4 linked regions of the Homo sapiens genome follow. The protein of the gene in region 1 interacts with the protein of each later gene in a pairwise test. Each region holds a gene or a part of one and is shown in the gene's direction. Other genes may lie near its edges. The genes, in order: DYSF, MYOM2, MYBPC1 and PLP1.

Evidence for each region.
Region 2: the proteins of DYSF (region 1) and MYOM2 interact in binary tests that used the Homo sapiens proteins (3 or more experiments, as listed by UniProt).
Region 3: the proteins of DYSF (region 1) and MYBPC1 interact in binary tests that used the Homo sapiens proteins (3 or more experiments, as listed by UniProt).
Region 4: the proteins of DYSF (region 1) and PLP1 interact in binary tests that used the Homo sapiens proteins (3 or more experiments, as listed by UniProt).

Annotation. Positions count from the first base shown.
Region 1 is NC_000002.12:71,511,699-71,519,390, forward strand, and holds part of DYSF (dysferlin), read left to right. Parts: intron 1-108; coding exon 109-223; intron 224-1,541; coding exon 1,542-1,634; intron 1,635-2,017; coding exon 2,018-2,223; intron 2,224-3,924; coding exon 3,925-4,053; intron 4,054-4,481; coding exon 4,482-4,544; intron 4,545-5,290; coding exon 5,291-5,341; intron 5,342-7,692. UniProt on the Homo sapiens protein: Key calcium ion sensor involved in the Ca(2+)-triggered synaptic vesicle-plasma membrane fusion.
Region 2 is NC_000008.11:2,039,849-2,048,500, forward strand, and holds the start of MYOM2 (myomesin-2), read left to right. Parts: upstream 1-5,197; 5' UTR 5,198-5,320; intron 5,321-8,652. UniProt on the Homo sapiens protein: Major component of the vertebrate myofibrillar M band. Binds myosin, titin, and light meromyosin. This binding is dose dependent.
Region 3 is NC_000012.12:101,589,740-101,598,407, forward strand, and holds the start of MYBPC1 (myosin-binding protein C, slow-type), read left to right. Parts: upstream 1-5,231; 5' UTR 5,232-5,331; coding exon 5,332-5,356; intron 5,357-8,668. UniProt on the Homo sapiens protein: Thick filament-associated protein located in the crossbridge region of vertebrate striated muscle a bands. Slow skeletal protein that binds to both myosin and actin.
Region 4 is NC_000023.11:103,786,840-103,793,811, forward strand, and holds the end of PLP1 (myelin proteolipid protein), read left to right. Parts: intron 1-958; coding exon 959-1,127; intron 1,128-1,597; coding exon 1,598-1,671; intron 1,672-2,493; coding exon 2,494-2,559; intron 2,560-3,687; coding exon 3,688-3,759; 3' UTR 3,760-5,780; downstream 5,781-6,972.

The DNA of each region.
Region 1 (7,692 bases):
TCAGAGCCATATTCCTTGGTGGAGGGATGCCAGAAACAGGGAAGATACTGGAGGGCAGTGGTCCGAGGCCAGCGCACCAACCTGTCCCCCACGTCTCATCTCTTCCAGGCCTCGCTGGTCCTGCAGGTGTCCTACACACCGCTGCCTGGAGCTGTGCCCCTGTTCCCGCCCCCTACTCCTCTGGAGCCCTCCCCGACTCTGCCTGACCTGGATGTAGTGGCAGGTGGGTAGCCCACGTTGGCCTGGCTGGGCCCCAGCAAGAAGGCCGGCAGTGGCACTTGAGCCTGGGGGCTGGGAGCTGCAGCGAGGCTTCCCAGCCTTTGCTGCCCTCCCCAGGTTGGAGGCTGCCCAGGCCTGGAAAGAAGAGGGTGCAGTGGGTGGGAAGTCCTGAGGGCTGCCTTCTGCTGTGCAGAAAGAAGGGGCAGCAGGCACGTTCCCTTGGGCGGTGCAGGGAGTAATGTGAGGGTGCCTCCAAGCCCCAGCTGCCTGGGGACGGGGCTGAGCCCAGGCTGGGTGTTCTGAGCTGTGCAGTTCCAAGAAGGGTGTGTGGGGATGGGGTCTGACCCAGGTGATACCTGAGGCCCCACAAACTCCCCAGAACCGAATGTTTCCCTACCTCAGCACCCAGCAGGCCTTTGGTGATGGTGTGTGACAAAAGAACTAGTTTTTTTTCTTGAAAGAGCCCTGAACTGAACTTCAGGGTTCCAGTCCTGCCTTTGACACTGAGTCTCTGTGTGACTTTGGGCTGATTACTTTCCCTCTCTGGGCCCATAGATTATTTGTGAAGGGAGCAGACTAAGTTAGCTAAGTGCTGTGCCTGTCTCAGCTCTCTTCACTTGGTTCTGCCAGGCTGGTCAAGCGAGGACCCAGCCCGGGGTGGCTGGCTCTCCACTGGTGGGCCTGGGTGTGGGAGCCTCCATGTGGTCCAGCCTGCTGGGGTTGGGAGGAAGCTACATAGACGGGCTAGTGGGCACTTGCCCATGGGAAAGATTCTAGAGTTTTTCTCTTAGTGAAGGGAGCTAGAAGCAAGCACAGCATTAAAACCGGAGCAGCCCATGTCTCAATTGAGTGTGCCCTGTGCCTGACCTGGGGCCAGCCCAGCACAGGGCTCTGTGGTGAGGTCGGCAGAGCAGAGCTGTCTTGTTGGGGCTCAGCACTGTCCGAGCTTAGAGATGGGAGATCAGTCTGGACTGGAGTAACCTGGTAATCCTGAGCTGTGTGGCTGGAGTGGGCTCAGGGGAGGAAGGAGAGGTGCCCGTGGTGGCAGAGGGTGGGGAGCAGGGAGGGTCCGAATACTCTGGGACTGTGTTGAGGTGGATCTGACAGAGTTAGGTGCAGGCCAATCAGTGGAGGCTTCCAGACACGCCTGGGAGGTGGTGAGAAGGAACAGGTGCCACTGGGCTCCACAGCTATTTCTGAGCTTTGCACCAGGCTGGGGTGGGCGGGGAAGGCAGGGTTGGGGATGGAGGTGCAGTAGGTTGGTTTCCTTCACCCCAACCTCCTCCCTCCCCTCCCGGGGTTATGCCCTGCCCACAAGACAGGCGGGGGACAGAGCCGGGCCGAGACTTGGTCCCTGCTCAGTGACAGCACCATGGACACGAGATACTCTGGAAAGAAGTGGCCGGCCCCCACGGGTGAGACACGGGCCAGGACTGTCCTGATCCCAGACCCTCCCTGTAACTGTCTCACTAGCTGCCATGGTCAGCTTGCTGGAGCGGGGCCAGGTGGCAGAGGACTCCTCCTGCAGGACTTGGCGGGTGGGAGGGCTAGGGCCATTCTGTTTTCTTCCTGTTGACTAACTGGACTGACTGCCCTCAAGTTTCAGCTGCTGGAAGCTCCTCTTCTTTCTACCTTATCCATCCTGGCTCACTGATGGGGAGGGAGGAGGGAGAGGAAGAGGGGATGAGTCTTAGGGCCCATGCCTTTTGGATCTTCTGCCCCCTGGGCTGGGTCCCAGGGGCAGGGGCAGGGGCAGGGCCAGAGGGATCCAGGCCTCATTAGGGCCCTCTCCTCTTAGACACAGGAGGAGAGGAAGACACAGAGGACCAGGGACTCACTGGAGATGAGGCGGAGCCATTCCTGGATCAAAGCGGAGGCCCGGGGGCTCCCACCACCCCAAGGAAACTACCTTCACGTCCTCCGCCCCACTACCCCGGGATCAAAAGAAAGCGAAGTGCGCCTACATCTAGAAAGCTGCTGTCAGACAAACCGCAGGATTTCCAGGTGATGAACGGGCTTTCTCTGACCCCAGGCTCCTCTTCAGCCATCAGCTGCGGGTGCCAGGCACCTGCCTGGTTTGTCCAGCTTCAGGGGAAGATGTGTGTGGGATCCTCAGGGCCCTCCTGTGGGGGAATCTGTAGTTTCCCTGGGCCTGGGCAGATGCCAAACAGGGAGTTCACATCTTACATCCACAGAATAAGCTTCTGCCGAGACCTGTGGTTTTGCGCTTAAAAAAAAAAAAAAAAAAAAAGTCACTGCAGAGATTCAGCATGTCTTTGCATCTCTGATCAGAGAAAAACCTGATTTTTCTAACCAGGGTATATCCAACCAGCAAGCTCCTGGCTATTCAGGTGTGGTCTGTGTCCAGCACCTTCCGCATCACCTGTATACTTGTTAGACATGCAGAGTCTACTCAGACCTGCTCTACCAGAATCTGCATTTTAACAAGATCCTTACCTCAAAGAAGCTCTGTCTAACATCTTTTTTTTCTCCTTATATCTATCCCCCTGCATATAGCCATGGATTTTTCTGAGAGTCATGTGGAATTTGAATTTGTTCAAGCTCATCACAGAATAAAAGCTATTAATATGAACACTTTGACACATTTTTATCCAAAAATCCATCCCATTTTATTTGCTTTTAACTTTGGTCCTTTGCCTATTTTTTTTTTCTTTTCAAAAGAATTTTCTATTTTGATGTAGTCACACAGTGATATTTAACTCTTTACAACTACTTTTAAGGTTAAAAGCAAGAATCTTAAATCTCTATTTATAATACTAAGTGCAACAAATTGCAAAAATATATTTCTATTCTAAATCATGGTAATTTAAGCAGAAGTCCTAGCTCTAACCACTGTTTGCCCCAAAAGACAAAATTCTAGCCCCCATACTACTATTCCCCAAACATGTTCATATTGCCTTTGTTCTCTTTATGGAAATACCATATGTTTATTTTAGACACTTTGGAAAATATATTAAAATGAGGAGATTAAAAATCACTCATCCATCTTCCCATTGCTATTAAGAATATATCCTCCCATATTATGCAATTTACAAAAAAAAAAACAGTTGGTCAGTAAATAACAGTTGATTCTAAAGTGGAGCCAGTAAATATCTTATTTTTTTCCATAGAATTGCCTTAATATTGTAAAATTTCATATTTTAAAATATCTTACCTAATATTTGGAAGCATAGACGTTCTTGAAGTCTTCATTTACTTACAGCTCAATGGCAAAAATTCTTAATTTATTTCTCAGAATGTAAGAAAGCATTGCATCTTATAAAGAATAAAGACTATTTCTGGGGTCACTTCACTGTGTAAGTTCGACCTCTGAGGGAATTGTCAATAAAGAATATTCAAGCCACTTAAAAATGCCAGTATCAATGGGGTCTCGGGTGGGGCTTGTGCCAATGGCTGAATGACATAAATGGGGGCTGTATCTGCCCACCCCTGGGGTTTAATGTGGGTAGCCGACGAGGGGCAGCCTGGCAGCTCTTCTATGGAGCTGTGGAATTTTATAGATGTAAGGGGCCTTGGTGGGAAAATATGATAGTTCGTATAATGCTCTTCCTAATTCCTTTTTAATACTTTCCCCAAGAAGCCAGTGGTGAGATGGTCCCTGAGATTTCTGACTCTTGGGGTGGATGGTGGGTGGTCCTTAACTCTTCCCCCTTCCTCCTGCTCTTTCCTCCTTCTGGCTTTCAGATCAGGGTCCAGGTGATCGAGGGGCGCCAGCTGCCGGGGGTGAACATCAAGCCTGTGGTCAAGGTTACCGCTGCAGGGCAGACCAAGCGGACGCGGATCCACAAGGGAAACAGCCCACTCTTCAATGAGGTGGGAGACATGGGGCATGAGGGCCAGAACCTTGGTGGGCCTTCCAATCTGGAAGCCCAGTGCAGACACCTGGCAATTCATTCAAGAGTGTTTACGTATGGCGCTGACCTTGGGTGGTGAGATGTGCTGGCTCCCAAGGAGGTTATCTGTGGGACTGGAGAAAGGGCTCCTGCTCTTACTTCTCCTGCTGCTCCACATCCCTGTCACCCTATAGGGCCAGCCACCCACCCAACCCTGAAATGACCACGTCTGTGAGGCCAGGGGCAGATCACCCCAGAACTTGTCCAATCCCCAGAACTGTGCCCAATCCACATTTTCTGAGGGGACTAAACTGCTAGGCGTGGAGGCTTGGGGGTGGTGGTCCTCCCTCTCCCTGGCCTGAGGGATCAGCAGGCACTGATATGTCTCTCTTTGCTCTGAACCAACAGACTCTTTTCTTCAACTTGTTTGACTCTCCTGGGGAGCTGTTTGATGAGCCCATCTTTATCACGGTATGTCTCAGCAGTCAAAGTGTTCTCCGTGGGCTGTATGTATGCACATAGGTGTCAGTGCACACGCGTGTGTGTTTGTGCACGTGTGTGCATGTGCACGTCAGTGTGAATGCGTGAATGCGTGTGTGTGCCTGTCGGTGTGTATGTGAGTATGTGCGTGAGAGGGAGACGTGTTAAAGCCTGACATATGGATGATGTGGAGTAACTCACAGTCAGGCTCTACGGGTCACAGAAATGCCTGCAACAGCTCAGCTGGCAGGCAGCAGCTGCGGGAGAGCCCACTGCTCAGCATCCCCCTGGGGCCTCAGGTCAGGGTCCTTAAATCACTTGTGGCAATGAACATTTAAGGTTCCATCTTATTTTGTTAATCCACGTGCCTGCTTCTGACTGAGATTCTCTTTCTCTCTGGGCCTTGGCTCTTCCCCCATCTCCTCTGAAGCGCACTGCAGCCTAGTGGCTCTAAGTGTAGGCTCCGGCACTAGAGTGGATTCCAGCTCTGTCTATGCCGTGTAGGGATTGTGTTTTCTGTACAAGTCTCTGTGCCCCTATTTCACCTGTGAAATGGGGATAATGACAGTATCTGCTGATGGGGTTCCTGTGAGGGCTAAACACTGCTTAGAACAGTCTCTGGAATTGAGTAAGTGTGAAGTGTTGGCAGTTATTGTTTGGGAGGGAAGAGCTATTGGGTTGGCCGTGTGGGCCACATGTTCCCTGTGAATGTGAGTTTCCATGATCTTTCTCTGCAGGTGGTAGACTCTCGTTCTCTCAGGACAGATGCTCTCCTCGGGGAGTTCCGGGTAATTGCTTATTTTCTATGAAAGCAGTCAGTTCTCACTTCTCCGTGTTGGTGGAGCCTCTGTGGACCATGGGCAGGGGCTCCAGAGATCCTGTGTTTCTCTGCTTTGGGAAAATATAATTTCAAAGAACAACGCCAAGCCCTCTGCACAGCATCTCCTTTCACCCCAGAAAACCTCTCCACAAAGGTAGAAGAGAAAGAAAGCACTTTTTGTCACTGAAGAGGCCTTAAACCAGAGTGAGATGTACATCACAGGCAATGATCCACTAAGATGCTGCAAAGACAGAAAGAAATCTCACGCTAATTTAGCCAGCGGGTCCAACCCATTGCCCACCACATACGTTCTCAAGAGAAGCTATGCCCCACCCTCAGGTCAGGGGACTTTACATTTCAGACCTCCTGAGAATGACATTTGTATACTAAAGCTGACAAATGGCTTATTTAGTTTCTTAAAAAGATGTATAGCACCTTTGGTCACACCGAGTTCATCCCAAAGTCACCTGGTAATCGGGGTGACCATCTATGTTAGCTAATTTGTTGTGTCCAGAAGACCAAACAAAAATCAAACTCATATTTTTATGACAGGAAGTAGTTTTACAACTTGGAGCAAGGTGCGCACGGGAGTTAGGCTCCTATCTTCCGACAGAAGCTGGGACACAGGGGAGCCGTCTCCCTTGGTGTTTATATTTCAGACGTCCTGAGAATGATATTTGTATACTAAAGCTGACAAAAGGCTTATTTAGTTTCTTAAAAAGATGCATTTCAAAGAGACAGGGAAAGTGTAATATATTTACAAGTTTTCTAAGGTAAGTGTTCTGACAAAAAGAGAGGGGAGGGAAGTACTTCTTCCCTTATTTCCAACAAGCAGAATCAAGACCCTTATTTGTAATTTGGATTTTCCCCCACCTCTGGGAAGGCCGTGTGAGATCTGAGTTTGGGCAGCCCTCCTCCTCATCCTGGCCATCTTGGGCCAGTGAGACCCAGCGCTCTCTGCCCTGACATCACTCTCACCCTGGGATGGGAGTGGGGTTCAGATATGGATCCCTGGGGGAGGGAGAGGCAGTGGAGAGAGGGGAACCCTGCCCCAGCCTCCTCACTTGTCCCAGACAGTCCAGAAGTGAATAGTCCTCTTCTGAGAACCGAGAGCCAATGGATTTAACAGATTACGTAAAGTAAAGGTAACTAGTAATTGCACAGACTAAAGGAGACCTGTATGATTTTTTTTTTTTTTTTTTTGAGATGGAGTCTTGCTCTGTCGCCCAGGCTGGAGTGCAGTGGTGTGATCTCAGCTCACTGCAACCTCTGCTTCCCAGATTCAAGTGATTCTCCTGCCTCAGCCTCCCCAGTAGCTGGGATTAGAGGCGTGTGCTACCACGCCTGGCAGTTTTTTTTTTTTTTTGGTATTTTTAGTACAGATGGGGTTTCACCATCTTGGTCAGTCTGGTCTTGAACTCCTGACCTTGTGATCTGGCTACCTTGGCCTCCCAAAGTGTTGGGATTACAGGCATGAGCCACCGTGCCTGGCCTGCATGGTGTTTTAATGTAATTTGATGTAATTGTTACTAATTTTCTCATTTTGAAATTTTCAAGGATTTCTCAAAAGGAAAGAAAGAGCACAAGCTTATTTTCCCCTCTCCCCTCTATCCAAGTATATCATGCCTTCCTTCTTTAAATTTGTATTTTAAATATGAATTTAAAATAAGGGGCTTGGTTCTGCCTGTTGTCAGAAGTTACCTTAGAATTATTTATTCTGCCCAATAAATAATTGCTGGGACCAGGCGCAGTGGCTCATGCCTGTGATCCCAGTGCTTTGGGAGGCCAAGGTGGGCAGATCACTTGAAGTCAGTAGTTCAAGACCAGTCTGGCCAACATGGTAAAACCCCGCCTCTACTAAAAATACAAAAATTAGCTGGGCATGGTGGTATGCGCCTGTAATCCCAGCTACTCAGGAGGCCGAGGCAGGAGAATCGCTTGAACCTGGGTGGCAGAGGTTGCAGTGAGCCAAGATCGCACCATTGCACTCCAGCCTGGATGACAGAGCGACACTCCATCTCAAAAAAAAAAAAAAAAAAAAAAAAAAAAAATTACTGGGTTGGACCTGATGGCTAGATCAGTGGGTGAGATTTCTTTGTCTTTGCGCTGTCTTCTCAAATCATTGCCTGTGGGAAGAAGTCACAAGATAAAAAACTAAGTCTGTTTACCTGGAGAAGCATTTTTTAAAAGAATGAGCTTGAGCCCAAGTCATTCTGTAACAAATTAAATCTTAATTATGTTTTGAGTCTTGTTCTGAGAACCCAAGGGTTAAGTCAAAAAATTATTTTACTTGTATCTAATTATAAAAGTAATCTATGA
Region 2 (8,652 bases), on another chromosome or scaffold:
GCCCACTTCAGGAAGCACAATTCTCACTAGGACTGGGCCTCGAACCACTGGCTGCTCTCACAGCTCTCTTGTGTATCATCTGTCTGTCTGTGTATCCTGTCTATCTATCTATCACCTATTGATCTATTTCCATCACTGATCTATGTCTATCTTTCATCTCTATCATCACTCTATCACTTTATCATATATTATCTATTTACCTATCATCTATCTTTCTATCACTCTATCATCTATCTATTATCTATCATGTAACTCATATACCATCAATCTCTTTATCAATCAATCTATCTAACCTATCATCATCATCATCTGTCTGTCTATTCATCTGCCCATCAGCTTATATGTCCATTCACCTATCTGTTTTTCTCTCTTTCTTTCATTACTCTTTTGCCATCTCTCACACTCTGTATTTTATCTGGATTGTTACTTGTTCTGGGTAAGAATGTTGTCCTACTAGAAGCAACTTTATCACACATAAAAGTGAAAGTCTACTTCAGACATCTCATGTCTTATATATTACCCACTACATAGAGTTATAGTATTAAGACTTGCTGGTACTCTGAGACATAGTAAATGCTTGATAAATATTAATTTAAATGTATTTAAAAGTATATATATTTTAAAGTGTCTATATCTATATCTATCTATATCAATATCTATCTATCTTTCTATCTATCTATCTATCTATCTACCATATATATTTTTGAGCTGAGGTAAAGAATTACTAAATATAGCCTAGCTTTGTCAATTCTGTATATTTCTGTTTAGTTCTGAGCCACTATTAACTATTATACTTAACAATAGTAAGTTCTTCATGTCTCTTGAATCCATTCATTGGGCAGTTAGTTCAGAACTCCTTTATTAAGCACAGAGAATGTGCTAAGTTTGGAGAGAAGAAGCCCACACTTTGGTGGCTGCTGTGGCAAGAGTGTCTGGGGAAGAGTAAGATGGTGTAGTTGGGGAAATCTTTACTCAGAAATTGATGTGTAGTTATAATAATATTGGCCTCAAAAGAGATAGCAGGTAAACTTACTAAGGACTATAAAATAAAGTCAAAATTTTGCAGAAAAGAAAAAAAAAGCAAAGGAAACCTAAGCATTTATTTTCCTACTTTCCTGGAAAATGATTCAGAAATGCTGGAAACATTGGGAATTTGTGCGATTCATGTCGCTAAAGGGTTCCTCATTACTGAGCTGCTGCTTTCTGTGGACACGTGTTTAACTGACTTAATGAAATGTTAGAAGGAAGGCGCTTCCTCTGAATGTCAGCGACCTATTTCATCAATTAGTGGATTAAGCATGGCCTCAAAGAGACATCTATTGAACTTCTTGGAAATTAAGAAGGTGACAATTGTATTTCTCTAAACAAGGTTACTCTCACAATCAACATTTTCAGAAGGTTCACATTTAAACATTACAGTTAATTCATCTAAGTGGATGTGATTTTCTTGAGGTTTAAATTCTAAATACAGAACTGCACAACCATAAATAGGAACAAAGACATTCTAAAGGCAGAAAAAAGGAACAAGGTTGGGTATGGTGGCTCACGCTTGTAATCCCAGCACTTTGGGAGACCGAGATGGGTGGGTCACTTGAGGACAGGAGTTCGAGACCAGCCTGTTCACCAATATGGTGAAACCTTGTCTCTACTAAAAATACCAAAAATATATATATATATATATATATATATATATATATATATATATATATATATATATATCCGGGCCTGGTGGCACACACTTGTAATACCAGCTACTTGGGAGGCTGAGGTGGGAGGCTCACTTGAACCCAAGAGTCGGAGGTTACCACTGCACTCCAGCCTGGGCGACAGAGCCAGACGCCATCTCAATCAATCAGTCATCAGTCAATAAAAATAAAGAAAAAAACTCTTTTCTTTAAAGTGGGGCTGTTTTCTGAGATTCAGGTTTTCAGGATTTGGGAATGAGAGGCAGTGCTGATGGGGGCTGATGCCCTCAAGGGAGTTTTCTGCCTCCAGATTTTCCAGTCTCCCTTCTGCGGCCTGTGCACACGTGCTCTGTGGGGACCAGACGCCTTTGTTGTTGGCCTCATCACCCCCTGGTTTGGGAGAGCACGGAGGGTGACCCCCTGCCCCTCCCTGTGCTGTGGCTGCAACTGCGAAGCCTCTTTCTGGTGAGCTGTCATCCTTTGAATCATAAAACTGAATATTTGGCCTGTTGGATGGATAATTTCTAAAATACATGGGATGGATAATTTCTAAAATACATGGATAATTTCTAAAATAATTTCTAAAAAACAGAAAATTTGTTTTCTGAGACGGAATGCATGGAAGTGAACAAAATATCTTAAGAATAATTTTATTTCTTTCAAATATCCAAACTGATTTTCCTGAATCGAATGTCAGTTTTGGCTCTGTGCAATATAACAGGGGTCCTGAACCCCAGCCTCGGGGTCCGTGGCCGGTGAGGAGCTGGGCCGCATGGCGCGGTGAATGGCGGCCACTGAGTATTCTCGCCGGAGCTCCAGCTCCTCTCAGAGCCGCGGCCTTAGATTCTCACAGGAATACAAACCCTACTGTGACCTGCACACGCGAGGGATCTAGGCTGGACGCTCCTTATGAGAATCTTATGCCTGATGATCCGAGGTGGAGCAGTTTCATCCCAAAACTATCCCCCTCTCCACCGTTCTTGGAAAAATTGTCTTCCACGAAACCGGTCCTTGTTGCCAAAACAGTTGGGGATTGTTGCTGTATAGAACATAACTTCACCCATGAATGGTCTGGCCTGGGGTTCCACAGGATTGAAGGCACGTGGTTTTAGAATGTCACTCTTTGCATTTCGATCTTCTTTTCTATGTTGTGGGAAATCCTCAGTGAGGCCAACTGTTTTCCATTCACAGGCTGCCAATTTGAGCTGTGGAAATGAGATTGCTGGACTCTTCCTTTGTCTTAGTCAGGATTCTCTTGATGGCCGATGATAGAAAGTCAGCCCAAGGAACTCCGGCAAGAAGGAGCCTGTCTGCCCCAGAGCTGGTGTGTCTGGTGGAGAATGCGGGGCCCATGCCTGGTCCCACCGCCTCCCTCCGTCTTTTGTCCCTTCTTGGCTCCAGGCTTCCTGCAGGTGCACCTCACCCAGGGAGTTTTGGAAGCTACATCCCGGGTGGGCAGGGGCAGGCATGGCTCAGGGAGATGGGGGTCTACGAGGAGGGTGGGGAGGGGTCTCCTGTCCCCAGCAGAAGGCGAAGCTCTGTCCCCATCAGGAGCCTATCTGTGTCCCGGGTCACACTCTGCTCTCTGGGTGGTGTGGCTGAAAGATCCAGGCTTTCTTAGACGCAGCACTGGATTTCTATATCACAGAAGGAGGGCACAGCCACCGTGAAATGTCAGAAAAGGAGGAGGAGTGTGCTGGCCCTTCCTTCTCTCAGGAGAGGCCCCTCCCCGGGATGAGATTGTCCCCTCCTGAGATGCTAGGACTGGGACCCAGGCGACTGAGATGCCAGGACTGGGACTCAGAGGACTGAGATGCCACCTGAGGGGACGAGGCACCATCACTGCCCCTCCAGTGTCGGCCACACTCAGAGGCAGGGGGGCAGAAGGGCTGAAGGGAAGTCCCCCAGGTCCCTGAGAAATGGATTCGCTAGAGAAGGAGATGCTGATAAACCGGAAGTAAACATTGCTTGCTCTGGTCTTGCTGTTTGCAACCCCCCCAAAATATGTGGGTTAAAACCCTAACCCCCAAAACGATGGTGTGAGGAGGTGGGGCCTTAGGGAAGTGACAAGGTCATGGAGGTGGAACCTCCCGAGTGGGATCAGTATCCTCATACAGAGGCCCCAAGAGCGGCCTGGCCCCTTGACTTGGTGAGGACTCAGGGACCGCGCCGTCCCAGAACCAGAAGGCTCTCCCCAGGCAGTGTCTGCTGGTACCTGGATCTTGGACTTCCAGTCCCCAGAACTGTGGGAAAGAAGCTCCTGTGTTTTATAAGCTACACGGTCTATGGTGTTTTGCTAAAGCAGCCTGAATAGACTAAGAAATCACTCAACAAACACTAATTAAATTAAATGCTAGGCCATCAGAATACGAAGGGGAAGAAGACAGAAACACTCGCCTCCTGATCCAGCATCCAGAACGCTCTGGGGCCCAGCAAGAGGCTGTGCTCGCGTCTTTCTCGTATCTGATCTTCGCCTCCATCCACCTGCTCGCTGGTCCTTGGCTGTGCCTCTGATACCCCAGTGTGAGAACGTGGAGTTTCTTAAGGCAATTCTCTTATCATATTTTCTCTACTTGTCACAACAAACTTACAGGAAAGTTGTTATTCCATGCGTTTTAGAGCTGGGGAGCATAGCCCCCGTGGGCTGAGCAGCTGGCCGAAGTCCTCAGCCCCTGTGGTGAGGTGCAGCTGGAGTGTGATTCTCCGGGTCCTCAGATGGGGGCATCCCCTTGAGGCCCCGCCTCTTGGCCAGGCTGCAGCCCAGGACCGTGCCAGGTGTGTGTTATCTATATTTGGACACACGCTGTGCGAAACGACGGGCACCCTGCAATTATCCGTGTGGTGTAGACGCAGTGTACGTCTGTGGTAATGGCTATAAATAAGCCCCGACTTGCCGACTAGGCACCGCTCCTCTTTTGGGTAGGCAGTTCTTGCTAAAATAGCCCTAAGATACAATCGAGTGAAGACCTGAGTCGTTCTTGAAATAAAAAAAAAAAAACGAACAAACACACGAACATGCACACACACGCTCACAAACCCAGGGGCTTGTGCACCTCCCTCCCTCCACAGCCGACCTCAACTCGGGTGTCCAGGCCTGCGAATGGCACAAATGCTCACTGAAATCCATGTCATTATTAAAGACTCATTCAGGAGTTGCAATTTGTGAGCCAGGGAACCTGTAGCTCGAAAGGATTGAAGATATGTCTGAGAATTCACACGTAAGGATTAGAACTCATGGAGGAGAGTTGCGGGGAGGGAGCGTGGGAAGTCAGTGCCCTGCCCTCTCTTTCTGGGTCGGGGGCTGAAGTGTCACACCCGGTTTCCTGGGAAAAGTGCAGTTTGGGACTCAGAAAGGACACGTTCCAGTTTTGAATCGTGATTTCCCCCGCCCTCAGTTTGAACAAGAAGCTTTTCCTCCTGAGGTCAGGCTGGTGATTTACGATGTGGGTATTGATGTGGGGAGAGGCAGGCCCAGGCGTCTATATATAGTAGCTCCTCAGACCTTAAACGGGAGGGAGGCACAGGCGCTTGCTTTGCAGGAGTCAGCTCTGCCTTCCTCGGCTGGAGTGTGGGTGGCTTGGTGAGCCGGTGGTCAGGAATTCTCTCTCCTCCTTGCAATTTTCCTTTCTGTCTGGGTAAGTGTCTTTCTCTTCTTGCCTTTTCTAATTTGTGGCTTTAAGGGGAGGACCGGTAACTTCTGCACTCACATTTTCTAAGTACCTCTACTTCAGGGTCAAGAAGAGAGAGCCAGTGCACCCCGTCGCAGGCACCCTTTACTGTGGAAAACAGAGCAATTAGTTCTGGGATCTGTATTTCTTTGACGAGGTTTTATGCTCAACTAACATTTTATTTCCCACAGCCGTGGTCTTTGCTAAGTGCCGTTTAGCACCCTGCGGCGTGTGCTTTGGGTTTTAGCCCTGGTCTCATCGTGGCCCCAGGGGGCCCCCCAGTCAGTGGACTGATGTCTGCAAGTTTCATGAGATTCTCAGAAACGAAAGCCTCCCCCGAGGAGAGGGCTGACTTATAAAGGTGTGAAATAATAAAACTGGATATTTTCTTAAGGGAAAAAAGAGTCGAGGGTCATTCAGCTTAGACCTAGCCTATATTATCCACGGTATGGGAAAGAGAACAATCCTTGTCAGGACTTGCAAGTTTTTGCCCAAAAATGACAGCGTTCTTACGGCTGTTTTCTTCTTTGTGCTGTTGGGTGTGTTGTGACCCTTCAGACTTCTTCAGCTCCACTCCGCTGATAGAGGCTGTGCCTTCTCAGGGCGTGCTCTTGAAATGCAACCTGCTGGAGAAAGACAGTGGGGCTGGGTGGTTGCACGTGGAAGGCACCGGAGGCAAACGGAAGGAAGGGGTTTGCCATCACTGGGAACACCTGGCCTTTTCTAATTCTCCATTTCACATTCCTTTCTTACTAAGTAGAAGTAAAACAGGACTCAAAGAAAGCGTGGAACAAAGATAATTTAAGGCGTTATTTAATAAACCAAGTCCCAAGCTAAAACTTGTCTTGGGAGCCAAGGGCTTAGCCACTTGTGGCACAGGCCAACGCTGCGTGTCTGGGAGTCCCTTTCCCCTCTAGAAAGCTTTAATTTGGTGTATTTATTGACTTTGACATTTTTAACTGTACAAACAATTTCCTTCATTAAGTGGAAGTCAATGTTTTGTACTTCAAACATTTTTGCAAATTAAAACCCATCCTGGTGACATGAGGAATGGGCTCCACACGTTGTTTGCAGGAAGGAATTAGGATGGGGATATCAGACACGTGGTCCCCTGCACTGGAGGAGAGGCTCGCGTTTCATCCTGGTGTCATGATTCCTAAACGTGTCAGGAGCATTCCGGGAGTGGCCGGGGAGCTGGGCTGTGGTGGAAAGTGGGCTGGACGCTGTCAGGAGAGTCAGCTGGCGCCTGGGTTCGGCCGTGGCCCTACCGGTGACCCGGGCAAGTCATATTTCCCTGGGGACGGTCTGTGCTAACAGTACAGCGTGGCGCCAGGATTATCTACACACAGGCTGTCCAAGCTGGGGGACTGTTAGCTGCCACCTCACTCAGCCCCCTGTTTTACAGCAGAGCAGGTGGAGGCCCCTGAGCTGAAGGTCAGCAGGTCCCCACTGGAGTCTCAGCCTCCCAATGCGCCTGAGCCCCAGGGACTCACATCAAAAACTACCCTGCGAGGAAAAGCTGCTTTCTTTCTCTCTCTCTTTCTTTTTTCTTTTTTTTTTTTTTGGTTGGTGTGTGTAGGGGGTATTTAACACATGTCTGAGATAGTTCCTTAAAAAGGAAAACAGCTTTCTATGTAGACAGTAGAGGGACATTGGGGAGCTGATCGGCCCAGGTCCTGTCATTTTCTTTATAGTGTCATAAATAGTACAGGTTGATCATTCCAAATCTGAAGATCAGAAATCCAGAATGCTCTAAATTCTGAAACTTTGTGAGCGCTGGTATGACTCTCAAAGGAAATGCTTACATGAGCATCTCAAGTATCCAATTTCTGGATTTGAGTTGCTCAACCAGTAAGTATAAATGCAAGTATTCCACAGTCTGAAAAACAAATCGGGAATTGGAAACTCTTCTGGTCCAAGCATTTTGGATAAGGGATGCTCCACCTGTAGGGTGCATTTGGCAAGTCCTCTCCAGGGTTCCCTCCACTCAGAAGGGCCCTGTGCTGCCAGGGCTGCAGGCACCCAGCACGTGCTGAGTCAGTGGGGATTTGCTTGCAAAGACGTCATCACACCCGGCCAGGAGGTGGTGGCCCAGGCTGGGTGAGGGACACTGGGGAAGTTCTAACATAGGAAGTCCCCCAAGGAGTGAAGAGATTGCGGAGGGGACACACATTCAGGGTGGGTGAGGCTGGACGTGCAGTCCTGCTGGTTTTCTGGGTTGGGCATGTGATTGATAAAAGTGGAGTTGAGGGCACATTGGCACTGGGAGTCAAATGCGCAGAAGACTTGAGCTTGCTACTCTCCCGAGCCAGGAGCTCTAAGGTGTTTTCATTGTTGAAATCCAAGGGTTCTGATTTAGGCTTGGCTGGCACGTTGCAAGTGACCCCATACTTGTGGAATCAACTGAGGCTGATGGATTCTGCAAAGCCTCTGACACCTCCTGATTTTGGTGGTCCTGAGCATGAAGTGAGCAGGGAATACATGTGGGGATAAACGTGGCAAAGTGCCCTGTTACCCCCATCCAAAGACTTCCCGGGGAGACTTCCACAGTAAGGTACCATTGGAGTGAGGATTGCAGGAAGTGTGCACACGTGATCCCAGCTCTGCCTTGCTAAGCACTACAAAGTGTAGCCCCTCACACATGAAGTGTTTGAAGACTTCCAGGCCCACAGGACCGGATGTCACGTCAGTGATACATAGGTTGCATTGGACAGGACGTTACAGACTGGTTGAAGGATAGCTAGTCTGTGAGCTCTCAAGACCTGAGCCGTTTCACATTCTTCCAGGTCTTAGGTCTAAGGAGGAGGATTTCCATCCAGGGCGATTCTCCTCTTATTTCAATGTAGCTCATTCTCTCCTTTGACCTAATAGGTCACATTTTGACTCTTCCCTTTACCAAGAAATACAAACACATCTGAGGTTTAACTCAACATAAGTGTAAGTAGATACTGTGATGACACATGAGCCCCTGCTGCAATAGCAGGTACTGGGGATTGCTCATGCGTCTGCTGGAGTGGAATTGCCTGGTATTCGTCAGGCTGATCCCAGAAGAACCTTGGATAGGAAACCGGATGGAAGCTGAAACGTCTTCCCCAACCTTGGTCCAACTTCATTTCAGTGAGCTCTTCCCAGCACCCTGCTGGTGAACTCCAGAGAGAGTAAATGGGTTTCTGAGCAGGAAGCGTTTCTTGAAGATCCACCTTGATTAACTCATTGGAAAATCCCAGTGAGCTGCATCTGGGGAGATTTCAAATAGTGAAGCAATACATAGATTTTCTCAGATACCTTTTCCTGTCTGC
Region 3 (8,668 bases), on another chromosome or scaffold:
ATTTTTTTAATTTTAATTTTTTTTTTTGAGACAGGGTCTCACTCTATCACCCAGCCTGGAATGCAATGGTGCCATCAAGGCTCACTGCAGCCTCCACCTCCCAGGCTTAAGCAATCCTCCCACCTCAGCCTCCTAAGTAACTGGGATCACAGGTGCTCACCACCATGCTCAGCTAATTTTTTTATTTTTTGCGGAGATGGGATTTCACTATATTGCCCAGGCTAGTCTTGAACTCCTGTTCTCAAGTGATCCACTTGTCTCTGTGTCCAAAAATGGGAATTGCAGGTGTGAGCCACTGCACCCAGCCAAAAAATGCCCTTTTAAATAACTCCTAGATCAATAAGAAAATGACAACCAAATTGCAGATTATTCAGAAATTATAAATATGATAACATTAAATCAAAATCTATGTGGTATAGCTAAAGCCCTAGGCTGAAAATAAGGTCTAATCTAAATCCTTAATATAGAAAAAAAAAAAACTTGACCAAAAGAAATCAGGAAGAGAAAACATAATTAAACCATAAACTAGTTCTTTCAAAGCACCAATAAAATTAGTTATACCTTGGAAAAACTTACCAACGGAAAGGGAGAAAATACAAATATTTATTAGGAATAAAAAGGAACCATAATCTTATATATGGATACTTTTAAATTAGTAGGATTGATTTTAAAAGTGAGAATCGATCCTACTAATTGGCTGGTGCATATACATAGTTTAAATTTTAATCAATTTTTGCTAGACCACTTTCCCAAAAGGTTACCTAGCCAACAGTTTGATCAGCAATGTATAAGATTGCCGGGTTTCTCATACCCTGAATGTTATCATTAAAAAAACAAAAAGTTGCCAACTTAATGGGTGAGAACTGATTACTCATTGTTTGTTTCCATTTTCCTGAAAGTTTAAGCAATATATCGTATGTATTCATGGTTTCTATTTCTTCTGTAAATTGCTTTTTGAAATCTTCTACTCTACTTTTAAATTAATAATATTAACTCTATGATGGGTTTAAAATAACTTTTTCTCCTTTCCTTTTTTACTTTTTGATTTTATGGTGTCTTTGCTAGAGATAAAGAATTTTAATATTTTATTTACTCAAATCTGTTACCTTCTCTATAGCTTCTAGATTTTCTTACTTTAACACGTGTCTCCACTTATGAGAGTATTATTCAAACACTGTCATAATTGTTCTTCAAATATTTTTATTGTTTAATTTTTTAACTTAAAACTTTATTTCTTCTATAATTTGCTCTTCTTTATTGTGTGAATTAGAGGTTTAAAGTTGTTTATTCCCCACCCATCCACACCCGCCATGTGCCTCCAACTTACCAGAGAGACATACCACCACCAGTTTCTGTTATTTTACCATGATGCTGATTGCAGTATTAGTTATGGTGGTCAAACACTGAAAACAACCTGAATGCCCATCAAAAGGTATGTGATTGAGAAAATATGGCATACTACAGCACATCCATACCATGAACAATTATTTAGCTATTAAAAAAGATTGAGTTAGGTCTATGTATATTAACATGAATGAATGTCTGTGAGAGGAGGTTACATGGAAAAAGAAAGTGGAAAATAATGTAAATAGTATAATCCCATTCATTAAAAAATAGATGAAGAACTCTCTACATATGAATATATACATTTATACACGTATGTATGAGCACAAAGGAAAATTAGACCCTAATTCACACACTGGAATGAGGATGAGGTTGGGGAGAGAGTGAAATTCTTGAGATTGCTTATTTACTATTTATACTTCTCCATATTCTTTGGTTAACGCGGAGAACACTATTGCTTTTATTTTGAAAGGTGAGAGATTGATACTTGCCTATCTGACATCCATTCTCCTTGGTCTCTTTAATAACAGAATTCCAATTTTACCTGAGAATAAGACTACATTTCCCAGCTCCTTTTGTAGTCAGATATAGCCATGTAACCAAGTTCTGGCCTGTGGGATGTAGTAGATGTGTGTGGGACTTCAAACAAGTCTCTTTAAAATGAAGAAAGTGACTTCTTCCTCTTCCTCTTCTCCTTCTCCTTCTCCTTCTCCTTCTCCTTCTCCTTCTCCTTCTCCTTCTCCTTCTCCTTCTCCTTCTCCTTCTTCTTCTTCTTCTTCTTCTTCTTCTTCTTCTTCTTCTTCTTCTTCTTCTTCTTTTCAGCTGCCTGGAATAGGAATGTAGTGTCTAGAAGATACACAGCTATTTTGGACCATGAGGTTACCAGGAGGATGGTAGAGCAAGAAGGAGGAGTCTGGTTTCCTGGATACACTGTGAAGCCACTGTATGACTCTAAGCCATTTGCTTTTAGACTTGCTTTATATGAGGGAGAAATACTTCTATCTTGATTCAACTGTTGGTATTTTGTAGTTTTGTGTTGTATTTGAACAAACTTCATCCTCAATAATACAAAAGGAAAAATCTAATACAGCATTTAGCAAAAGAAACAAAAGCCTGTTGACCATCCCCCTGTCTTTCCTGAGAGTACAGCTAAGGCATCTGCAACCTTCTAGATGAATGCATAAGATCTGAAATAGGAGTTATGTATTCCTAAAACAATATAGCCCTAGGAAAATTACACAAGTCTACTTGTTATCCTAATTTAAAATTTTACCTTAACCACCTGATACACTGTACAATAATTTGTCCTAGAATTTGTCCATACTTCCAATTCCTATAATAATGCTTTGCCTTTTTATAATTAATTCCTTTATTACCAAAAAGTTCCCCAGGTCATAAAATACTTTCTCTGTGGATTGCAATATTTCCTGGCATATGTTCACTTCAGTAAGACGATCAGTGTATTAAAAACCCAATGGGGTTTCTGCAGAAGCCAATGATGGCATGGCACCTCTTTTGTGGCATGTGTGAAATCTGCCCTTCGCTGTAAACATTCTTATGCAACATGACACTCTGCCCTATGTCCATTTCATATGTGGTGTTCAGTGTGCTGGGAATGCTGAAAAAAACAATTCTCTCTTAGAGATTTCCCAAGTAGAATCACAGTGTTAAACCTATCAGCAGCCTCCAAGATCATTTTTTTTAAGCCCCTCATTTTACACAAAAAGAAACTGAGGCCCAGAAAGCCCCCTGACTTTCTCAGAGTAACTAAGCTGGTTAATGATAGATCCAGAAATAGAACCCAAGGGACCAACTTCAGATTCTAGGTTCTTTCATATGTTTCATCTATTAATTGATATCCCCAGAGCGGACTCAGCAAAGGAACGTTTTTTTTTTTTAAAGTACAAAAATGTGTTCAGTAGTATAATGTGGTTAAGGAGGGGCTGTCTTTATAAAAGATGTTCATTACCATCTTGACTGGCTTCCTCCCCCTCCCCGCCACATAACTAAAGCATGATGCTATTGAGTTCTAAGTCTAGTTTCCACCCTTATATGAAAAGTCAGCTTGGCACAGAGTTTGGTAGAGCTAAGTCTGACCAGCTGCACTCTCAGCCACAAGGGAAATTAGACGAGACAGTGTGGCTGCTTCAGTACCAATCAATCAAAGTTTTTGAAAATTATCTTGAAAACACACACCAATAAAGGCATGTGTGTAGTTGTCTTTTCATATAAACTCAGGTTAGTCCTAGTGCATGTGAACAAAGAAAGTAAGGTGTCTTCTTCAGGTTGACTACTTGGTAGTTCCTATTTCTCTATCAGTTCCATGAGCGTTTTGGGAGAAAGTGACCACATCTACTACAGTCTTTCAACATCTTAAGTTAGATTTGTGTACCCTCCAATTGAATCACTTGAATCAAAACAATAGCTACTAGTCTATTTGACTTTCTTTGCCCAGGCCCCATATATATCTTTTTATTTTATTTTTATTTTTTGTAGAGACAGGGTCTTGGTTTGTTACCCAGGCTGGTCTCCAACTCCTGGCTTCAAGTGATCTTCCCACCTTGGCCTCCCAAAATGCTGGGATTATAGGCCCCAGCACTGCACCCAGCCTCCATATATATTTTTAAGTGTATAATCCAGTGGTTTTTAATATATTCACAAAGTTGTACAACCATCACCACTATCTAATGCCAGAACATTTTCATCATGACCAAAAGAAACCCCATATGCACTGGCAGTCACTCCCAATTCCACCTCCCTTAGGCCACTGGCAAACACTGATATACTTTCTCACCATATGGATTTGCCTGTCCTAGATATTTCATATAAGTGGAATTGTACAATGTGTGTTCTATTATTTTTTATTATTATTATTATTAATTTGAGATGGAGTTTCGCTCTTGTTGCATAGGCTGGAGTGCAATGGTACAATCTCGGCTCACCACAACCTCCGCCTCCTGGGTTCAAGTGATTCTCCTGTCTCAGCCTCCCGAGTAGCTGGGATTACAGGCATGCACCACCATGCCCAGCTAATTTTGTATTTTTAGTAGAGACGGGGTTTCTTTATGTTGTTCAGGCTGGTCTCGAACTCCTGACCTCAGGAGATCCACCCCCCTCAGCCTCCCAAAGTGCTGGGATTGCAGGCATGAGCCCAGCAGTGATCTATTATTTTATAGTCTACGTTTGTATGTCTGACTGACTTCTTTCACTTAGTGTAATGTTCTCAAGCTTCATCCACGTTGTAGCATGTGTCATTGCCTCATTCTTTTATATGTCCTATAATTTTGAAAAATGATGTTTTTGGAAAAAAATGCAAACGCAGAGTATCCCCTAATAGAAATCTTTGCTATTCTTAGAGAAGAACATGAGACAAGTTATTTAACCTAGAGATTTGGCTTGAAAAATTAATATTGACATATCAATGAGGAATAAGAAAAAATATAAATGCAATAATTAAGGACTGATGAAAATGAAAAGCTAATTGGAGCATAAAAGTGATCATCTGAATACAAAGACTTTTCTGCCTAATCTTAGTGAAAATTAAGGTATAGGTTGGATTGGCATATTATGATTTTTAATTTGTTTTTTTAATCATCCAGCAAACTTTTTGCACTCCTGAGTCAGCACATGCATCTGTCAGAGAGAGAAGAGCAAGACGGAGCACGAGGCTGCAGCTGAATTTAGAAAGTTAGAGGTGTTCTCATCAGCCACATGAGATGGGCAGGAGATTCCTTCCAGTAGGCGAGAGAGCAGAGTGCAGACAACAGATGTGAGAAAGGTCCCCATAGCTGTCAAGTTCCTGCATCCTTGTGCTGAAGAAAGGGAGGTGCCATCATGATTGATGTTCAGAGGCAGTATAAAAGCACTGGGTTTCTCCCCAACTGCTTGTCACACCGACCTGCACCATCTCTCGCCTGCCTGTGGGGTTTCTGTCAACTAGTCGTGGAGGGAAGGAGACTCTTTAAAGAATAACATCTTATTGTGGCCATGCCAGAACCCACTAAGAAAGAGGGTAAGACTTATCTAGAAATCTTTTTGTTGTACTCCTGAATAAAGTGTTTATTTTGGTATTTATCTTCAAACAAATAACAAATATCTTAACTAGATGAGAAAATAAAATCACTATGATTTAAGGAAACGATCTTTTAGATTAAACAGACCAGAGGAAAAATACAGCGAGAGTATATTGAATTGAAAAATTTCTGATAACGATAGTTTCTAAAGGGATATTGACTAAAATTATCAAATGATAATTCTATCATTCAATTGTAAAGAATCCTTAAAGTGTAATTTAAGGATGTTAATTGCTGATGGTAAACAGATTACGTTTTCAAGCATATTTTCTTAGATTTAATCACAAATTTTTTACCATGTATTTGCAATTTGCAGAGAGTAGGAGACTTAAAATATTTTCTCAAATGGTTAATACATTGGATCAAGATTTCAAAAAAGAATTTGTGACATTATTTCCATATTTGCTACTTTTTTTAATGGAAACATATTTAAAATATACAGACGAAGGGTTTTTTTTGTTCTTATCAGTGCCTTTGGAGGTTCGTTATTAAATTCTTGCATGGAAAGAAAACCAAACACCTGATAAAAAAGGATGTCCCTGAATATCATGAATAGATTGTTCTTTCATGAGTTTTATTGTAGAGAATTTCATAATATGTAGTAGGCTTTAAGAATAGTTAAGCTGAAAGTATAAAAATATTCTTCCTTAGAAGAAATGTTTTCCCTAACAAAGTTTCTCCTTTCTATAAAAAAATTAGTGTATTAAAGCTACCAATTGGTAACAGAAGTAAATTGGAATTAGTAGTTATGAAAATAAATAATAATAAGCACAAATTAATACTATGCATGCATTGAATTTAATTTTTAATTAAAATATCTTTTAAAAATATTATTTCATTTATATTCATCTTCATTAATGCTTACTGAATCTTTATTTTTCCCTTCTGCAAATAAAAGAAAAAGAAAGATTAGCAGGAAACATAAAAATAGTCATAGTTTTCAGTTTTTAATTCTTAAAAATGCTTTAGCTATTATTTTAAGGAACCTTGAAAAAGATGTTGAAATACTAACCAAATTATCAAAAGTCTTTTAAACATATTTTCTTTATATAATTAAGTAACCAGTGTTGACAGGCTGTGGTGATCAGTTTACAGGTTGGCCTTACTTAGTGGCAGAGGGCATTGATGGATGAAGTCTTTCACCCAAAATAACCACACCAAATGCATGTATTAATATGGGAACTTAATCCTGACTGTCAGGCAGGGAGTCCAACCCCTGCTAAAGTATCTTATTTGTAATGCAAATGATTTACGTGTGTACTAAGTGTCCTTTTTATCTGCTCTGTCACTTTAACCTCTCCGAAGTGTACCCAGAAGCAATACATTCTACCATGTTTCCAAACTGGAAACACAATATTGTTTTAATTATTCTGAATTTAGTGAATGATTTTGCATTTGTTTTTTTAAAGCCTAATTGAAAATGAGAAGAAAGCTGAAAAACCAATAAATAAGGTGACAGCCTGTAAGAGCCAATAAAGCTAATTAAATTATTCTGATCGCAAAGGCGATGAAGTTTACTTTTCATTTGACAACTCAGTCTGATTCACTCTTTTATGGGGAATGAAATTATAGAGCTGCAAAGAGGAAAATATATCTTTAACTTCAGCCCCCACCCCCCCAATATATATTTTTTTCTTTCTGAATAAAACAGCATGGATGCTAAAGACTCCATCATCTTCTTTTGCTATAAAAGCATGTTGCTATTCTGTGTAGGAGTTCCTCCACCCAGGACAGTAATTTTATACCCATAAATTCTTTGGTTAGTGTAAATTTGGATGATGGGGATTGGGGCAAGAAGAGTTACTGATATATTTAAAATCCATTGAGGAAGTACAGAGATTTTTTTGGTTCCCTTACCAGCAGAACTGATTCTTAAAGGAACTGTACCTTGAAAAGCTTTCCTTAGTGAAATAATTGCATTTTAATATTGTTTACATTAGAAGAGTAAGGAGTACGGCAATTCATGAACTATTCTGGTCCTTTCTTCTTCTCCTAACTGTGATTTCATTTTCACTGGGGTTAGTTTGATTGCATATAAGCCTCCCTCTGAAAAATAAAACATGGCCTAGAGCCAGTTCTTCAGAATCATTTCAAAATACCTGCAGAAACCCTCCCAAAGAACAGGCTCCTCCAGCCCATATGGGTCTTCTGAACTCTTCCCCACAGCTCGTAAAGCCATGCCCAGGAAGGCCATGACCACTTGCTGTGAATCTTAATAGGACACATGAGCTGGTTTGGCCCTCCTAGGATCCAGGAGGATCTGGCAACTCCTCAAAAGAGGCTGAGTTTTCAGCACCTGAAGGTACAAAAAATGTCTCACTCAACTACTTCCCAGCCTACCGTGGCCTAATTCTGGGAGTTTTCTTCTTAGATCTTGGGAGAGCTGGTTCTTCTAAGGAGAAGGAGGAAGGACAGATGTAACTTTGGATCTCGAAGAGGAAGTCTAATGGAAGTAATTAGTCAACGGTCCTTGTTTAGACTCTTGGAATATGCTGGGTGGCTCAGTGAGCCCTTTTGGAGAAAGCAAGTATTATTCTTAAGGAGTAACCACTTCCCATTGTTCTACTTTCTACCATCATCAATTGTATATTATGTATTCTTTGGAGAACTATGTTATTTGTACTGTCTATTCCAGATAAAACTTACCTTACACCACTTTGGATTCTTACAGAACCTAAGGCCTAGTACAATTAAGTTATTCCGATCAAATTGGGAGGATGTTGTAGGCAGTTTCAGATTTGTGGGGATCTCCCAGGATGCCTTTGATACATTCATTTATATATCAATTATTAATTGAGTACAAGTAAGTGCCCGAAAGTTAATTGCCCCCGGTTCCTACTGTGTAAAGAAATCACCTTTCTTTTTTTTTTTTTTTTTTTTTAAGACAGTATCTCACTCTGTGGCCCAGGCTGGAGTGCAGTGCCACAGTCTCCGCTCACTGCAGCCTTTGCCTCCCAGGTTCAAGTGATTCTTGTGCCTCAGTATCTCAAGTAGCTGGGATTACAGGTGCCCACCAACACGCCCAGCTAATTTTTGTATTTTTAGTAGAGACGAGGTTTCGCCATGTTGGCCAGGCTGGTCTCGAACCGCTGACCTCAGGTGGTCCACCTGCCTCTGCCTCCCAGAGTGCTGGGATTACAGGCATGAGCCACTGTGCCCGGCCAAGAAATCACCTTTCACTGGAAATTTCTCTTTTCCAGTCAAAAAGAAATTTTATCAACCTCAAACTAGACAATTGCAATAGCCTTTCT
Region 4 (6,972 bases), on another chromosome or scaffold:
GTGAGGAAGCGATGGCTGCAGCCGAACGAGAAGGTCAGGAAGAACGTGGTGCCCAGCTGGCTTAGCCTCACCTTTCAAAGGTTCCCTAAGCAAATTTCTTCTCAAAACAGAAAGCATGAGTTTTGTGGGATGCTTTGTACAATCAGACCATTTCTAAGCCATCTGTTGGTATCCCTTTGTTCCCTTCCTAGTAGGTACCACAAGAGTGGATCTAACTGGACAAGAGTCTAAAATGCTGCTCATGTGATTGAGACTTGGGCACCTGATCTGAGAGGGAGGATGGATAATAAAAATTAAATAATTAACTCCAAGGTGAAATTTACAATGTTCTGGGATCCTGCACAGTTCGAGGTCCCAGAGGGAATTGGAGTAGATCTGCATGTTGAATGTTTTATTGCCTGAGGGTTATCCATGCTTTGAGTGAGGTGCACATTTGTTTTCAGTCTCTGGAGTTAAAGATCCTTTGGCGGCTGAACATGTGTGGGTTCCAGCAATGTCTTTTTGTGGCCAGCAGTTAGCTTAGAAAGGTTTTGTATCTGAAATTTTAATCTCCTATTGGCTTTGTTCAATGGCTAGGGAACAAAAATGTTCCTATGGCAAGGAACATGTTCTAAGCTCAGCCTAAGGCACAAAATGGCACGACTTTCTTTCAAGATCTGTTTTGATTTCTTTACACCTTATCTGCCCAAAAACATCCTCTGAAGCCTCTCTAACCCAGGGATCCTCCTCACTCTTCCCCTACCCATTCCCCCCACCCTCCGTTATACTGGGGCCAGTTATCTAGTAGATACTGCCAATTACCCTTGGCAGAGGTGCCCTGCTCACTAATTTCATTTGAAGGAGAGCCCTGGAACCTGGTTTTAATGTCTGGCACACGCCACTCCAGGATCTCCCAGTTTGTGTTTCTACATCTGCAGGCTGATGCTGATTTCTAACCACCCCATGTCAATCATTTTAGTTTGTGGGCATCACCTATGCCCTGACCGTTGTGTGGCTCCTGGTGTTTGCCTGCTCTGCTGTGCCTGTGTACATTTACTTCAACACCTGGACCACCTGCCAGTCTATTGCCTTCCCCAGCAAGACCTCTGCCAGTATAGGCAGTCTCTGTGCTGATGCCAGAATGTATGGTGAGTTAGGGTACGGGTGCTTTGGCTCTCCTACCCACTATGGAAGCACTATATATTTGGTTATTTTCTTAGTGTAAGGAGGGTGGTGATTATGAGAAAAATATAAGATGATGAATGATTGGGTCTTAGTTTATTAATCCTTCCCTACTGAAACCAGAGAGGTTTCTTCCCCGGGAAGGGAACTTGGAAGTGGTGGGAGTTTTCTTGGCCATTCACATTGGCCTACTCTAGTTGACTGCTGTTCACAACCCCAAAGCAGCACATTTCAATAACAAACACAAGGTTTCACCACTGTTCAATACCACCTTCTCTTTTTTGTAAACCTGTAGAAAAGAGGATCCTGATTGTTGGTAGAATCCAACTTTACAGCCAGGATAATTAGAGATGGAAGAAGGGCTCTGGGGGAAAGTCTCCATGTGGCCCCGTAACTCCATAAAGCTTACCCTGCTTGCTTTTTGTGTCTTACTTAGGTGTTCTCCCATGGAATGCTTTCCCTGGCAAGGTTTGTGGCTCCAACCTTCTGTCCATCTGCAAAACAGCTGAGGTGAGTGGGTTATTTGGGTTATTTTACAAGGGAGTAGCTAATACCATACAAATTACACCCATGGCCTTCAATTTTAAGGACTGAAAGTTTCCCTTTGCTGGATTTTGAATTAGCCGATTGCCTTCTACAACATGTTGGCTAAGTGTGCCTGAGCCAATGAGCATAGAAGGTAAAACACCTGTTTTCTCTAGAGTTGCATAGAAAGACTTCCTTTCCAACCCTTCCCCTCTTAAAAGAGAAGTTTGTAGCTTTAGGTAAAGATAGAGCCTAATGGCAAAATCCCCCACATGAAAATTTTCATTCCTTTAGTTAAAAACCATATCAAGAAAATGGGCTGTGCACAGAGGCATTCATAGGTTTTATGAAAACATTTTCAATTTGGAACTTCTTTATCTCAAATGAGAGGTAAAATAAGTACATTTGAAAGGGAAAGCACTGTATTGAGAACAGATATTATATACAAATGAGGCAGGGGAATAAAAGTAAATCCGGGGGAGACAGGCAGTAAATTATTTCTTTGACAGCAAAATGTTGACTTTAAATTTTGGGCCCCTGGGCACAACTGTAGGGAACCAGTTAATTATTTTGGAGTACTGTACTATTTCATGACTATTCTGTGATCTGGGTGTTAATGGGCCAGGTGCTATGGTGTACACTGAAGACTGGGAGGCCCACATTTAGGGAAGTGAAAACTTAGTTAGAGATGTGGAATTAGCACACAAGAAAGATATCAACACATTCAGAAAGCTGTATTCATGATTTACAGTGGAGCATATTACTGCTGTTGCAAGAAACAGTTCTTCCTCTTTCATTTTCCTGCAGTTCCAAATGACCTTCCACCTGTTTATTGCTGCATTTGTGGGGGCTGCAGCTACACTGGTTTCCCTGGTGAGTTGACTTTGAATGATCTTGGCAAGTAAATAGGCCTGAGATAGTGTGGGTACAGCTATTCTGAAAGGCAAGAAGGTAGACTGCTTCCATCCTTGAAATGCTGGAGGGAAGCTTCTGGGAAGATAGCAAAGGGTGGAGGCTCCGTACTTCTACTTGCATTGGCAAGGCAGAAAGACATCACAAATTAGATGGGAACAAGAAAAGTGGTATGAGGAAAGAGGTAAGAGATTCATAGACACGAATGATAATATTTAGTATTTATAGAACATGTAATGTTGCCAAGTACTTTGCAGTCATAAATTACGGTTAATTCTCAATACATTTTGATCAGATCAGTGACAAAACACTGAAACATCACGAAACATGACTTGCTATAGCCTGGAATTCTATATACTATCAATATGAATCCACTTTGGATACTCTCCAGTGGATTTAGTTACTCATATGGAAATACTGGGAGGACCTCCTAACATTATTAGAATTGTTATGATTATAATACAATGCTATGTCCCAGGTCTTGCTGATAGTGCTACAGTGCCCTGTGAATGTAGTGTGCTCATTGTGCAGATTAAAAACCTAAGGCACTGAAGGGTGAAGTGATTTATCTGAAGTTATTTTATAAGCAGTGATCAGACAAGATGAGCTCACAGAACTCCTGGCCCCTACTGCTGAGGTTTCCATACAGAGTCAAGTAATTTCTCACCTTGTAAAACGAATTGATTCATTAACCAGGGGAGAGCTCTACTGCATGATGTGGCTGTGTGTCTACAGCAAGCACCCTATGACTCTAAGTCACTCGGACATATTGATGTGGCAAAGCCCAAATATTGTTCACTTCCCTGAGGAAAACTCAGTGCTAGATCAAACAGAGGTGTGGAATAAATCTTTATGATTTGATTCTCTGGGCCTGGGCCATGAGACCCATGATGCCTCAGAGACATCGGACTTCCAGTCAAGTGTATATGGAGAAAGCCAAGCCTGGGATGTACTGCTTTTTGCAGAGCATGGGTTTTTCCCTTATTTAGTTATGATTTTATTTCTACCCTTCCTCATTCCCAAAGGGATTTGAGGAGGGAGTGCTTTCTTTTCTACTCTCATTCACATTCTCTCTTCTGTTCCCTACAGCTCACCTTCATGATTGCTGCCACTTACAACTTTGCCGTCCTTAAACTCATGGGCCGAGGCACCAAGTTCTGATCCCCCGTAGAAATCCCCCTTTCTCTAATAGCGAGGCTCTAACCACACAGCCTACAATGCTGCGTCTCCCATCTTAACTCTTTGCCTTTGCCACCAACTGGCCCTCTTCTTACTTGATGAGTGTAACAAGAAAGGAGAGTCTTGCAGTGATTAAGGTCTCTCTTTGGACTCTCCCCTCTTATGTACCTCTTTTAGTCATTTTGCTTCATAGCTGGTTCCTGCTAGAAATGGGAAATGCCTAAGAAGATGACTTCCCAACTGCAAGTCACAAAGGAATGGAGGCTCTAATTGAATTTTCAAGCATCTCCTGAGGATCAGAAAGTAATTTCTTCTCAAAGGGTACTTCCACTGATGGAAACAAAGTGGAAGGAAAGATGCTCAGGTACAGAGAAGGAATGTCTTTGGTCCTCTTGCCATCTATAGGGGCCAAATATATTCTCTTTGGTGTACAAAATGGAATTCATTCTGGTCTCTCTATTACCACTGAAGATAGAAGAAAAAAGAATGTCAGAAAAACAATAAGAGCGTTTGCCCAAATCTGCCTATTGCAGCTGGGAGAAGGGGGTCAAAGCAAGGATCTTTCACCCACAGAAAGAGAGCACTGACCCCGATGGCGATGGACTACTGAAGCCCTAACTCAGCCAACCTTACTTACAGCATAAGGGAGCGTAGAATCTGTGTAGACGAAGGGGGCATCTGGCCTTACACCTCGTTAGGGAAGAGAAACAGGGTGTTGTCAGCATCTTCTCACTCCCTTCTCCTTGATAACAGCTACCATGACAACCCTGTGGTTTCCAAGGAGCTGAGAATAGAAGGAAACTAGCTTACATGAGAACAGACTGGCCTGAGGAGCAGCAGTTGCTGGTGGCTAATGGTGTAACCTGAGATGGCCCTCTGGTAGACACAGGATAGATAACTCTTTGGATAGCATGTCTTTTTTTCTGTTAATTAGTTGTGTACTCTGGCCTCTGTCATATCTTCACAATGGTGCTCATTTCATGGGGTATTATCCATTCAGTCATCGTAGGTGATTTGAAGGTCTTGATTTGTTTTAGAATGATGCACATTTCATGTATTCCAGTTTGTTTATTACTTATTTGGGGTTGCATCAGAAATGTCTGGAGAATAATTCTTTGATTATGACTGTTTTTTAAACTAGGAAAATTGGACATTAAGCATCACAAATGATATTAAAAATTGGCTAGTTGAATCTATTGGGATTTTCTACAAGTATTCTGCCTTTGCAGAAACAGATTTGGTGAATTTGAATCTCAATTTGAGTAATCTGATCGTTCTTTCTAGCTAATGGAAAATGATTTTACTTAGCAATGTTATCTTGGTGTGTTAAGAGTTAGGTTTAACATAAAGGTTATTTTCTCCTGATATAGATCACATAACAGAATGCACCAGTCATCAGCTATTCAGTTGGTAAGCTTCCAGGAAAAAGGACAGGCAGAAAGAGTTTGAGACCTGAATAGCTCCCAGATTTCAGTCTTTTCCTGTTTTTGTTAACTTTGGGTTAAAAAAAAAAAAAGTCTGATTGGTTTTAATTGAAGGAAAGATTTGTACTACAGTTCTTTTGTTGTAAAGAGTTGTGTTGTTCTTTTCCCCCAAAGTGGTTTCAGCAATATTTAAGGAGATGTAAGAGCTTTACAAAAAGACACTTGATACTTGTTTTCAAACCAGTATACAAGATAAGCTTCCAGGCTGCATAGAAGGAGGAGAGGGAAAATGTTTTGTAAGAAACCAATCAAGATAAAGGACAGTGAAGTAATCCGTACCTTGTGTTTTGTTTTGATTTAATAACATAACAAATAACCAACCCTTCCCTGAAAACCTCACATGCATACATACACATATATACACACACAAAGAGAGTTAATCAACTGAAAGTGTTTCCTTCATTTCTGATATAGAATTGCAATTTTAACACACATAAAGGATAAACTTTTAGAAACTTATCTTACAAAGTGTATTTTATAAAATTAAAGAAAATAAAATTAAGAATGTTCTCAATCAAACATCGTGTCCTTTGAGTGAATTGTTCTATTTGACTTCACAATAGAAACTTAATAATCGTACCTTGTTCAAGGAGATCATTCATTTTTCAGCTCATCCAAGTCATTCTCATAACATTTCTCTGAAATAAATAGTATATGAATAGATTACTTCTACTTTTATAGTTGAAGACACTAAGAAATAGAAGCAAAGTAATTTGCCCAAAGAAATCCAGTAAGTACATGTCTGAGCTTGTGTTAAAACGCAGATATTGAAACCAATTTATTGCCTACTTAAAGGTTTCTTTTCTCTTCGAAGTTGGGTTTCAGAATGTTCAGAGTCAACTATGGTTACTTTTTCAATACCTTAGTGGTGCCCCAGTCCCCGGTGCATTTAGATTTAAGTTATTGTTACCTTCTCTTTAAATTGTTTGGATATTCCAGTAATGATCCCTTAGTAATTCATACGTGACTAATATTTAGTTTTATTTGGATAGTACTGGATGGAAGGTTTAGTACTTAAAGGACAGAGCAGGTATGGAAAGGGCAACGTAAATGTAAACAGGCTGTGGCAGGGCAGTACTAAAATAAATTAGTGACACCTACCACCCTGGATGGCCAGCCTACTAGCCCACCGGGGACATAGCATTAAAGCCCTTTCACAACCCTAGGTTAGAATTTGGCACCCTTGGACAGCACTCTGATGACCAGCTTAAAGAAAGCTGTCTTAAAATCATTTCATTGCCCCATAGTTGCAGCTGGCAAATGACTGGAGAGAAAGGAATCTTTAGCTGGAGGGATGACAAGTCAGTCATCAGTTAAGGAGCTCCATTCAAAAGCAGTTTCAATTTAATTTCCTGATTTCTGCTTAACCACAATTAATATTCTGCAAGCGAGTCTGGTTGAACGACTTTAAGACATAAAGAATAAAAATATGACAGGGACTTATTTTAAGACACTGCAAACAAGGACACAGCACCATATTTTGGAGAATTGATTCAGGGTTCTACAGAGTGATTGTATTTTTGCCTCAGAGGAACCGAAAGCCAGTTCCCAAGAAAGCTATGTTTTCCATCTGCCCTTATTTGGCTCTGCCTCTGGGATGAATCTATAGATGGAGTTTCTAGGCTCTCAGAAGCTGAGAGCATCTCCAGTCTATCAATTGAACCCATTGTTCTTAGCTCTCCCACACACCATAAACCTCCTTTTTTCTAAC